2 linked regions of the Homo sapiens genome follow. The protein of the gene in region 2 purifies or fractionates together with the protein of the main gene of each other region. This does not show direct contact. Each region holds a gene or a part of one and is shown on either strand. Other genes may lie near its edges.

What was found. The genes of interacting proteins can lie anywhere in the genome.
Region 1: the proteins of CXorf58 (region 2) and GDE1 purify together in Homo sapiens (affinity purification with mass spectrometry; 3 studies listed by BioGRID and IntAct, with this or other methods). This does not show direct contact.

The regions. Positions count from the first base shown.
Region 1 is NC_000016.10:19,501,142-19,505,113, reverse strand, and holds the end of GDE1 (glycerophosphodiester phosphodiesterase 1), read left to right. Parts: intron 1-21; coding exon 22-233; intron 234-1,496; coding exon 1,497-1,644; 3' UTR 1,645-3,421; downstream 3,422-3,972. UniProt on the Homo sapiens protein: Hydrolyzes the phosphodiester bond of glycerophosphodiesters such as glycerophosphoinositol (GroPIns) and glycerophosphoethanolamine (GroPEth), to yield a glycerol phosphate and an alcohol.
Region 2 is NC_000023.11:23,903,984-23,911,005, reverse strand, and holds the start of CXorf58 (uncharacterized protein CXorf58), read right to left. Parts: upstream 3,001-7,022; 5' UTR 2,677-3,000; intron 724-2,676; 5' UTR 704-723; coding exon 588-703; intron 1-587.

The sequences.
Region 1 (3,972 bases), on a different chromosome or scaffold from region 2:
CTTCCCCAAATTCCTTTGCAGATGAGACAAACAGATCGGGATGTAATAACAGCATTAACTCACAGACCTTGGAGCCTAAGCCATACAGGAGATGGGAAACCACGCTATGATACTTTCTGGAAACATTTTATATTTGTTATGATGGACATTTTGCTCGATTGGAGCATGCATAATATCTTGTGGTACCTGTGTGGAATTTCAGCTTTCCTCATGCAAAAGGATTTTGTATCCCCGTAAGTTGGAAGGTTTTTTATTTTACCCAGACAGACATCCTGAATGCTCTTATTTGAAAGGAAGGATTAACAGAGTAGACAACCTGAATTGGTTCTGACCTGCAAAGCTTACCATACCTCTAAATTGGATTACCAATTTCGCTTCTTAGGTGGGAAGAGTTCAGGCATATTTCACTGTTTTCAGACCGAGTCGATCACATATTTTCGGTTTTTTAGTGTATTTTGAAGAAAAAAAATGAACCTGTGACACTATGCTGAGCAAGGGATTTTATTTCTGTGACTGGTTTTTTTGAAAGCCAACACAGGATCCTGGGCAGAACCACAGTGAAGACATCCTGTGGGCACCAGCCTCCCCACTACCGTCTTATGTTATAGGCACTCCCCCACCTCTCCCCATAAAATTTCCATTTCCTAACCTGCTAGCGATCTCGGAATCATTTCTTTGGCAATTCTGTATCTGTATATTTCAGCTAATTAGAGTTGTAGGTCTAGTATTATTTCAGACATACATGATTCAGTTCAATAAATATTTGGTAAGTGCCTATACTATTGCAAGGTTCCATGTTGAGAAGCTGAAGATGCAGTGGGTAAAGAATCAAAGCCATGATCTCTGCCCTCGTGACGTTTATAGCCAAGTGGGAGAGTGAGAGATGCTAATCAAATAAAAATCCAATCAATATAAAGTTAAAACTAAGATACAGGCTATGTCAGAGAAAACTGTGCATGGGCTATAATCTAATCTGGTCTGGGTTGTCAGAAACAGCATCCCCAAGGAAGTGACAGTTAAGCTAAGATCTGAAGGGTGAGTGGGAATTGGGAGGAATCCAGATCAGAGAGAAAAATACATGTAATGTGCTCTGGCAGGAAGGAACATGGTTCTTTCCAGGAAGTGAAAGAAAATTAATATTCTTTCAATTAATTTAAAATTAATCAGCACAGAAAAGAAAGGGGGAATGTGGTGTGAGATGAAGCCAAGGAGACAGGTCGGGGCCAGGTCAGGCACACCTTCAGTGGCTGTGCCAAGGACATTTGGGGGTGGCGATCATTAGTGAGCTACTGAAATGTTTTAAGCTGGGACAGTGTAGAGGAGGTTCATGGCATCCTGGGTTTTGGAACAGTCCCTCTGATCACAGTGCAGAGGCCAGTTAGGAGGCATTCTCTGGGCACCATTGGTATGCAGTGAACACCATACTTAGTGGCCATTATGGATTCCTGAGACAGCTGCTTATTATTCTAACAGGATTGGCTTTCCTCTTTCCCCAGGGCCTACTTGAAGAAGTGGTCAGCTAAAGGAATCCAGGTTGTTGGTTGGACTGTTAATACCTTTGATGAAAAGAGTTACTACGAATCCCATCTTGGTTCCAGCTATATCACTGACAGCATGGTAGAAGACTGCGAACCTCACTTCTAGACTTTCACGGTGGGACGAAACGGGTTCAGAAACTGCCAGGGGCCTCATACAGGGATATCAAAATACCCTTTGTGCTAGCCCAGGCCCTGGGGAATCAGGTGACTCACACAAATGCAATAGTTGGTCACTGCATTTTTACCTGAACCAAAGCTAAACCCGGTGTTGCCACCATGCACCATGGCATGCCAGAGTTCAACACTGTTGCTCTTGAAAATCTGGGTCTGAAAAAACGCACAAGAGCCCCTGCCCTGCCCTAGCTGAGGCACACAGGGAGACCCAGTGAGGATAAGCACAGATTGAATTGTACAGTTTGCAGATGCAGATGTAAATGCATGGGACATGCATGATAACTCAGAGTTGACATTTTAAAACTTGCCACACTTATTTCAAATATTTGTACTCAGCTATGTTAACATGTACTGTAGACATCAAACTTGTGGCCATACTAATAAAATTATTAAAAGGAGCACTAAAGGAAAACTGTGTGCCAAGCATCATATCCTAAGGCATACGGAATTTGGGGAAGCCACCATGCAATCCAGTGAGGCTTCAGTGTACAGCAACCAAAATGGTAGGGAGGTCTTGAAGCCAATGAGGGATTTATAGCATCTTGAATAGAGAGCTGCAAACCACCAGGGGGCAGAGTTGCATTTTTCCAGGCTTTTTAGGAAGCTCTGCAACAGATGTGATCTGATCATAGGCAATTAGAACTGGAAGAAACTTCCAAAAATATCTAGGTTTGTCCTCATTTTACAAATGAGGAAACTAAACTCTGTGGAAGGGAAGGGGTTGCCTCAAAAGTCACAGCTTAGCTGGGCACAGTGGCTCATGCCGATAATCCCAGCAATTCAGAAAGCTGAGGCAGGAGGATTACTTGAGGCCAGACTGGGCAATATAGCAAGACCCCATCTCTAAAAAATTAGGCATGGTGGTGCATGCCTGTATTCCCAGCTACTCAGGAGGTTGAGGTGGGAGGATCACTTGAGCCCAGAAGTTCAAGGCTGCAATGAGCCATGATTACACCACGGCACTACAACCTTGGTGGCACAGTGAGAACCTGACTCTTAAAAAAAAAAAAAAAAAAAAAAAAAAAAAGATAACTAGAACTTCTAGAACATCTTGTTTACAGTTAGCCAGAAACTATACAAGTGGTTTAACATGCATTATCTTACTCAATCCATACAAAAGTCTTATGGAGGTGTTAGCACTCTTTCTACTGATGAAGAACTGAGGTACTTCATAAAACCACTTACCCAAGGTGTCTTGAGTCTGGTACAACTGGCATTCAAATCTAGGTCAGTCTGCCCCCAGAGCCACTACCCTTACCCCTCACTGAATCTGCCTTTATATTGTTGAGCCCATGACCCCAAACTGCTCTTTCCAATTTGAACTTCCAGGGATTTTATTGTGAACTTACATAGCAACATTAAAATGAAGTTGAATTGTTTTTAATGGCAACGCCGTCTGTCTCCTCTAGCTTACCGCTTCTCACCTTTCAACCCCATCTGTGGCCTTTGTCCAGGCCCACAGCTTAGCCATGGCTTCCCTCCTGCATCCCTGCCGTGGGTTGCTGGCCTCACACTTGCAGCAGCTGGACAGTGATTTTAGAAGGCCACCAGTCCCCATAGCTATGTGACAATGAGAAGCAAACTTTTTTGTGACAGATTGTATTGGCATAGGCATGATAGATGGGGATTGGTACGTTTTGAATCAGCATTTGCAAAAAAATTGTCTTGAATTTTAAAATAAACAACAAAGATTTGTTCATTGAGTGCAACAAATGTCTAAACTGCATGTACTTCCGTGCCATGTTATGACTAGAGTGAAAGGAGGAGGAAAAAGTGACCAAAGAAGATACATCAGGCCAGGCGTGATGGCTCATACCTGTAATCCCAGCACTTTGGGAGCTGAGGTGGGTGGATCACTTGAGGCCAGGAGTTTGAGACCAGCCTGGCCATGATGGGGAAACCCCATCTCTACTAAAAATACAAACATTAGTTGGGCATGGTGGCACATGCCTGTAATCCCAGCTATTCAGGAGGCTGAAGCAAGGAGAATTGCTTGAACCCAGGAGTCAGAGGTTGCAGTGAGCCAAGATTGTACCACTGCACTCCAGCCTAGGCCAGAGAGCAAGACTCTGTCTCAAAAAAAAAAAAAAAAAAAAAAAAAAGATACCTCTGTTCAACACTAGCTGTTCAACAGGCTGTTCAACACTAGCCTGGGCAACATAGTGAGACCCCATCTCTACAAAAAATTTACAAATAGGGGCTGAGATGGGAGGATCACTGGAGCCTAGCAGGTTGAGGCTGCAGTGAGCTAGGATCGTGC
Region 2 (7,022 bases):
TCACCTGAGGCCAGGAGATCGAGACCAGCCTGGCCAATATGGTGAAACCCCGTCTCTACTGAAAATATAAAAATTAGCCAGGCGTGGTGGTGCATGCCTGTAATCCCAGCTACTCGGAAGGCTGAGGCAGGAGAATCGCTTGAACCCAGGAGACAGAGGTTGCAGTGAGCCGAGATCGCACCACTGCACTCCAGCCTGGGTGGCAGAGTGAGACTCTGTCTGAAAAAAAAAAAAAAAAAAAAAAAGAAAGGAAAAAGCCTGAAGTGTGGAAACAAACCTTTGAATCCTATCTGATGCCATTTATTAGCTGATAACTTTCTGCAAGCCACTTACCTTCTCCCGGTTGCTACTACTTCATTTATAAAATGTAAAAATTGTTTCACAAGGTTGTATCAGGATCAAGTAGATGTGTGTTAATATGCTTTGTAAATTAGAAAATGCAATTATAATTACTCAATTTGAAAGTAATTTTAAAACACAAAAACTTTGATTTACAAAACAAGAAGCATTTGAAGTTATCTGAATAAGTACTGTTTGGAAACTGTACAGTTGTGGAAGATAACACAAGGCAAAACACAGGTACTTACGATAGTAATGATCTTGCATTTCGTGCATTTGCGAAATGTACTCTGCGAACTTTTTGTAAGGATCTTGTACCTGATTTCAGAATACCTTTACGTGGTACATTTGAGGAACGATTCATTTTCCCTCCAATGAAGTAATCTGAAAGTACATAAATTAACCCTTTGAGGTCATAATTTATACTATTACACTGTTTGGACAAGACTCAAGTGCCATATGATTGTTGTACTAATTCTGAATCCTTTAAAAAGGAAGGCATTGTGGATCTCTTAAAGTTGCTTACAGTTTACATTCTTTGTGTACTAAAAATATTATATGGTATATGGAAAAGACAAGTAAATCTATCCATAGCCTTCTAACTGGTCTGTCTCCAGTCTTTTTCTCCTCTTATTCATCTTCCACACTACACCTGGAGTTAACTTTTTAACTCAATAATTCAATCTCCTCACTCTCCAGCTGTCTACCAACAAGCTCATTGAGGGCAGGAGGCATCTTGTTAACTACAGAGTCCTCAGTGCCTAGCACAGTGGAGAGTTTTTACATGTTTGTCTAAAAACGTTTTGTCCCAGTTTTATCACCAAATAGCAGTGAGACTTTGGGCAAGTCACTTAACCTCTCAGTGGTTCAGTTCCCTCCTTGGTAAAGTGAGAGGGTATACACTAAATTTCTGATTCCACCTCCAACTTTCTATTCTTTAAAGCAACGAGTTTGGATGCAGTAATGCTCCAATTTGGATGCAGCTCCCAAATTCTTACTCACTGCTTGGTCTCTGTTACTAAACCAGGGGCTCTTTATCATTTCTTTTGGTGCCATGGACCCCTATGGACAGATCTCTTCTAAGAATTGGTTTTAAAACGCATAACATAAAATACATAGGATTACAAGGTGCTCCAATTATATTGAAATCATCAAAATATTTTTTAAAACAAAATTATAGTAAATGTGTCTTCTTAATGCATTAAATGAGCTCTAATAACTACTGTATTTTTGTAGTAACGAGCATAAATATTTCAAGATCCCTGACATGACTGCAATGTAACATGAAAATATCTGTGCTTTCCATTGATGACAAAGTCATCAATGTTAATACTACTGTGGCTTGTTATCTACACTATAATTGAAAGAAACAAAGTTCAGTTAGAGGTTAGTGAAAATGAAGTTGTCATTTTTTCCCCCATACAAGTTCACATACCCCCTGAATTAAGAACTTCTGCCCTAATTTATCAATATGTTTCACATTTTTATGTATGTGTGACGTTACACTGCTGATGCAGAGAGCCTTCTGAGTCTATTCAGTATTTCTCCTTGGGGATGCCTTGGAATATACAATCCTCTTAAGAAAGAGAAAAGCAGCCCTTAACATCTGGGAGCTAAGCTGGGCTTAACTAACACCAAGGCTGGCAGTCACAGCTGGGCCTTGGTGTTACCACTGCTTCCTAACAACACCCGATCCAGAGCAAAGCTCCTGCTTCCTTGAACTCGCCCCAAAATCACCGAACCAAAGCCCAAATCCTATAATAAATCTAACTCTTTTACTGAAATATGTCACTGTGTTCCTACGTGTGCGTTCTCCTTGCAGCAATGAGAAACCCAATTTCTTCAACTACAGGTGTGCCCCTAGTGGTCTTTGGCTGGAGGGCAGTGGCACGTCACTGTACAAATTCTAAATTTTTCCAGATGCTCGCCTGGATGGGGCTTACACTTTTTATAGGATTAGGGCAGAAATACAGAATGAAATAGGAAATACATCCTCATTATGAGACAGTGCAACAATTGTTTTGGCTAGAACACAGGTTTCAAAGGCAGACTAATGGGTTTGGATCCTAGCTTCCCACTTCCTATGTGGTCTTGTACAAATTACTTCTACGTGCCTCAGTTTCTTCATCTATGTATTGGGAATAATAATCATGCCCACCTACTTCCGTTGTTGGAAAGATTAGATGAATGTGAATAAAGAACTTAGATCAGGGCTGCGCATATCAAAGTGCTGTATCAGTGCTTGTTTACTCTTGTTAATAAGATAATTATTGCCATTATCAGTTACTTCTACAAGTATTAAGGGACAAACATTTGATTTCCAGAGAGGAGGCTTACCGCTTGTTTCTTAACGGGAAAAAATAAGGTCAGAGCCTTTTCCGATTAAAGGACACAGCATATTAGTTTAAATTTAAAACCTGAGAAACCTCAAGTCCTTGGTTAAAACCTTTCGTAAGGTAAATCCAGGCCGCCAACCGGCGGCTTCCGGCTGCGAAGCTTTCGAAGCCGCCGGTGGCCCTCCAAGCGCCCCCTCTCGGCAGCCTCTGCTCACAGAAATCCCAGTACACGCCGCTGGGCGCCCAGTCGCCGCTGCAAAGACAGTTTCCCAGCGCCGCGGCAACGCCAGGCGCCTCCCTCCTCGCGCCTCCGCGTACCGTCCACACAGAGCCGGCGCTTTCTTGCCGCCTAGCAACCGCCGGCGCAGGGGCGGAGCCTCCTGGAGGGCGGGGTTTGCGTTCACCCGCTGCCCGGGCGCGACGCGCTGCGGCTCAGCGACGCGGCTTCTAGAACCGGGTGATTGAACTAAACCTTCGCCGCACCGAGTTTGCAGTACGGCCGTCACCCGCACCGCTGCCTGCTTGCGGTTGGAGAAATCAAGGCCCTACCGGGCCTCCGTAGTCACCTCTCTATAGTGGGCGTGGCCGAGGCCGGGGTGACCCTGCCGGAGCCTCCGCTGCCAGCGACATGTTCAAGGTGAGAGCGTGGAGTCGAGTCACAGCTGTCACCGCCCCCTCCCGGCCGCCCGAGCCCTCCCCGCGCTCTCTTGGGGCCTCTCTGCAGCCAGGCCTGGCTCACCCCGAGGCTTTTCCCGCCACTGGGCCGGCTGCGTCCCGGCCCCGCGGTTCATTCACTGGTCTACTGGGGATGAGCGGCTGCCGGGCGGAGGCGGGAGACCCCCGGGTGGGTGGGGGCGGCCCTTTGGGTTGTGCTTTCGTGAATTAAACACTTTGAAAATTTAAAGTGCCTTCCCCCAAAGTACCCATCCCCTCGGCTAGTACCCTCTTGGGATCGTGGGTAGGGTGAGGCCAGCTCAGGGCACTGTGGGGTTCGCGGCTTTAGTTGCCTGGCAGGGTCAGGTTTCAGAACCTGATGTGTGGATGGGGGAGGGTCATTTTAGGAGAAGCTGTGCAGGGTATGGGGGAGGCTGGGGTGGGATGGCTGGGTGACGAGGGAAGCTGGAGCTTTGCTCCACTCCTCAGGGAACATTATTTAATACGGGCCAGTGGACCCCCTTCCCTGCGTTTTGTGAACTCGTGTCCTTTGGAAAAAAATCGACTTTTACGATGAAGACTTAATTTCGAAAATCTGCACTTTAGCATAAAGCCATTATTCTACTTTTTAAAAAGTAAATTATATGTATTTTGTCATAAAAAATCACAGGCTACCAGAAATTAATCTACAAAATTGAGTCTTCAAGAAGCATAGTACCCATAAAATAGTGCTAATGAAATCTCAGAATTGTACTATTCATTTAAAAGTTTTATTGAGCTCTGCAATGTGCTTTGGGTACGTTAATAAAGGCTGTAAAATCAGAACATGCATTCTGCCTTCTAGTCCTGGCATTGCCACTTTCTAGCTGTGTGACCTTGGGCAAGTCACTGTGCCTATCTTCCTTTGGTGAAGTTGGGGTAATAACATCTACCTCATAGGGTTGTTATAAGGAGTAAGTTGGTATGTGTAAAGCACTTGGAAAAGGCCTAGTATTTGCTCTTACTCTGTTTTCAGGCAGCTCACAGTTTAGTCAGGAAGACAGATCCTATAATCAACATTCATTTGATAAATTTGTGTGTTAAACACCTGTTATGTGCTAGGAGCTCAGCTCCATTTCAGGGTTACAACAAGGAAAGATATGCTGTGGCCAGTTTAACTATATGTGTACCAACAGTGTAGTAAAGTAGTAAAAAGGAGAGCAGGATCCACTTGGCTTAACCAGGGGTTCCTAACCTGGGGCCCTCAGCTCCTCAAAGGATCTGCACATAGATTTCAGAGGATCCCTGAACTTTGATGGGGAAAAAACATAACTATTTTTAGCAATCTCCAATTGGAATTGAGCACTTCCTTTAGTTACGCATATGGGTAATGTCTCAGTTATCTATTGTTGGGTAACAAATCACTGCAAACCAGTGCCTTAAAACAAGAATTGTTTCTCAAAATCTGGGTTGGCTGGGCAGTTCTGCTGGTGACTTGACTGAAAGTTGGCTTCACTCCCATGTCTGGGGGCTTGGTGCCCCTCCATGTGCCTAGGTTGGACTTCCTCACTTGGTTACTGACTTCCAAGAGGGCAAGTCCCAAGGCACAAACACAGCATCATGTTTGCTGATGTCAAAACAAGTCACGTAGCCAAGTCCAGAGTTGATATGGTGGGGAACCACACAAGGTCATAGATATGAGTTGGTGCACTTCGCTGGGGGCCATTCATTTTACAAGTTCCTACTGTAACAAATCACAGTAGTATTAGCAGTACCTGTTACCAGTAGAAGTCACAGTACCAGCACAAGTCACAGACATTTTCATATTACATTACAGTTGTTGCAGATGTCAAAATATCACTTATGCTCATTACTACTTCAGAACTATGGTAGTTATAAGACTCACTGCTAGATCTTTTTGTTTAGTGGGCTAGTAAAGAAGCACATACTGCTTATATCAGATATTTGAGTTTAAAAAATAAGATTATTTCAATATAGTTGGGACTTTTTTGTATGCAATTAGAAGCATTATTTTGAGAAGGAGTCTATAGGACTCACTGACGGCCAAAGAGGTCCACGGCAGAAAAAAAGGTAAGGAACCCCTGGGGACTTCAGAGAAGGCTTCACAGACGGGACACTTAAATTTAGTTTTGAGACAGGTAGGAGTTCTTCAGGTAAAAGGGGTGGGGAACATCAGTGGTATTCCATTGGGGGAAGTGCTGGAAGCTCAGTTTTGATGTGTCAAGGGAAAGACATAGTGAGCTGAGATTATTATTATTATTATTATTGTTATCATTATTATTTTTTTCAGACAGAGTCTGGCCCTGTTGTCCGGGCTGGAGTGCAGTGGTGCGATCTTGGCTCACTGCAGCCTCCGCCTCCTGGGTTCAAGTGATTCTCCTGCCTCAGCCTCTGAGTAGCTAGGATTACAGGCGCCCGCCACCACGCCTGGCTAATTTTTTTGTATTTTTAATAAAGACGGAGTTTCACCATGTGTTGGCCAGGCTGGTCTCGAACTCCTGACCTCGTGATTCGCCCGCCTTGGCCTCCCAAAGTGCTGGGATTACAGGTGTGACCCACCGCGCCCGACTGAACTGAGATTATTTCAGGTGAACATGTACTTTGGGTAGAAAAGATCACAACAAACCTTGGAGGACACCAAAATGTAGGAGTAGGCAGAGGAAAGGGGGAGGCCAGACTTGAGAAGCAGAAGTAGGAGCAGAAAAGAGTGATGTTTAGAAAATCGAGGGAGAAAAGTTTCAAGGAGAAATGGCTATGTTAGGATGCTTTCAGCTGGGAAAACCCAACTGCTTAAATAGTAAGGAAAATTCTCTCACAAAGTCCAGAGGAAGAATGGATTCCAGGCTCTGATTCAGTTGGTCAACAGTGTCAGGCCAGGCACGGTGGCTCACGCCTGTAATCCCAGCACTTCGGGAGGCCGAGGCGGGCGGATCACGAGGTCAGGAGATCGAGACCATCCTGGCTAACATGGTGAAACCCTGTCTCTACTAAAAATACAAAAAATTAGCCGGGTGTGTTGGCGGGTGCCTGTAGTCTCAGCTACTCGGGAGGCTGAGGCAGGAGAATGGCAAGAACCCGGGAGGCGGAGGTTGCAGTGAGCTGAGATCGCACCACTGAACTCCAGCCTGGGAGACAGCGAGACTCCGTCCCAAAAAAAAAAAAAAAAAAAAAACCAGTGTCATCAAGGACCCATCTCTTCTTGGGTTTCCACAGTCAGGTTGGTTTCCTTTAGGGTTGCAAGATGACTACTAGTAACATACACACTTTCTCATTCTCTAGAGCAAGAGGAGGAGGAGAGAGAAAAAACTCCCACACTTGGTCCTTCAGTCTGATTGGACCAACTTAGGTCAGTTGTCTGACCCTGTAACAGTTGTCAGAGGAATGCCATGATCTGATTGGCTTAGACTAAACAGGATCAACCCAGGGTGGCGTCACTTAATCACAGGGGAGAGGAATGCATTCATGAACACAATGGAGTTCTTTTAGGAAGGAAGAGGGAGAATAGAGACTGGATATGCAACCAACAATGTCCATGACGGAGATATAAGCTAGATGAGATATGAGTTAGTTACATATCATGAGTCGTGTTCACTGATTTGGGCACTTTGGAAAGCTTTCATGATCCTTATACTTTAGGTTTACTGATGGAAGTGAAGGGTAGATTAACCTGGGTTGGTGACTGAGGGCCAAGTA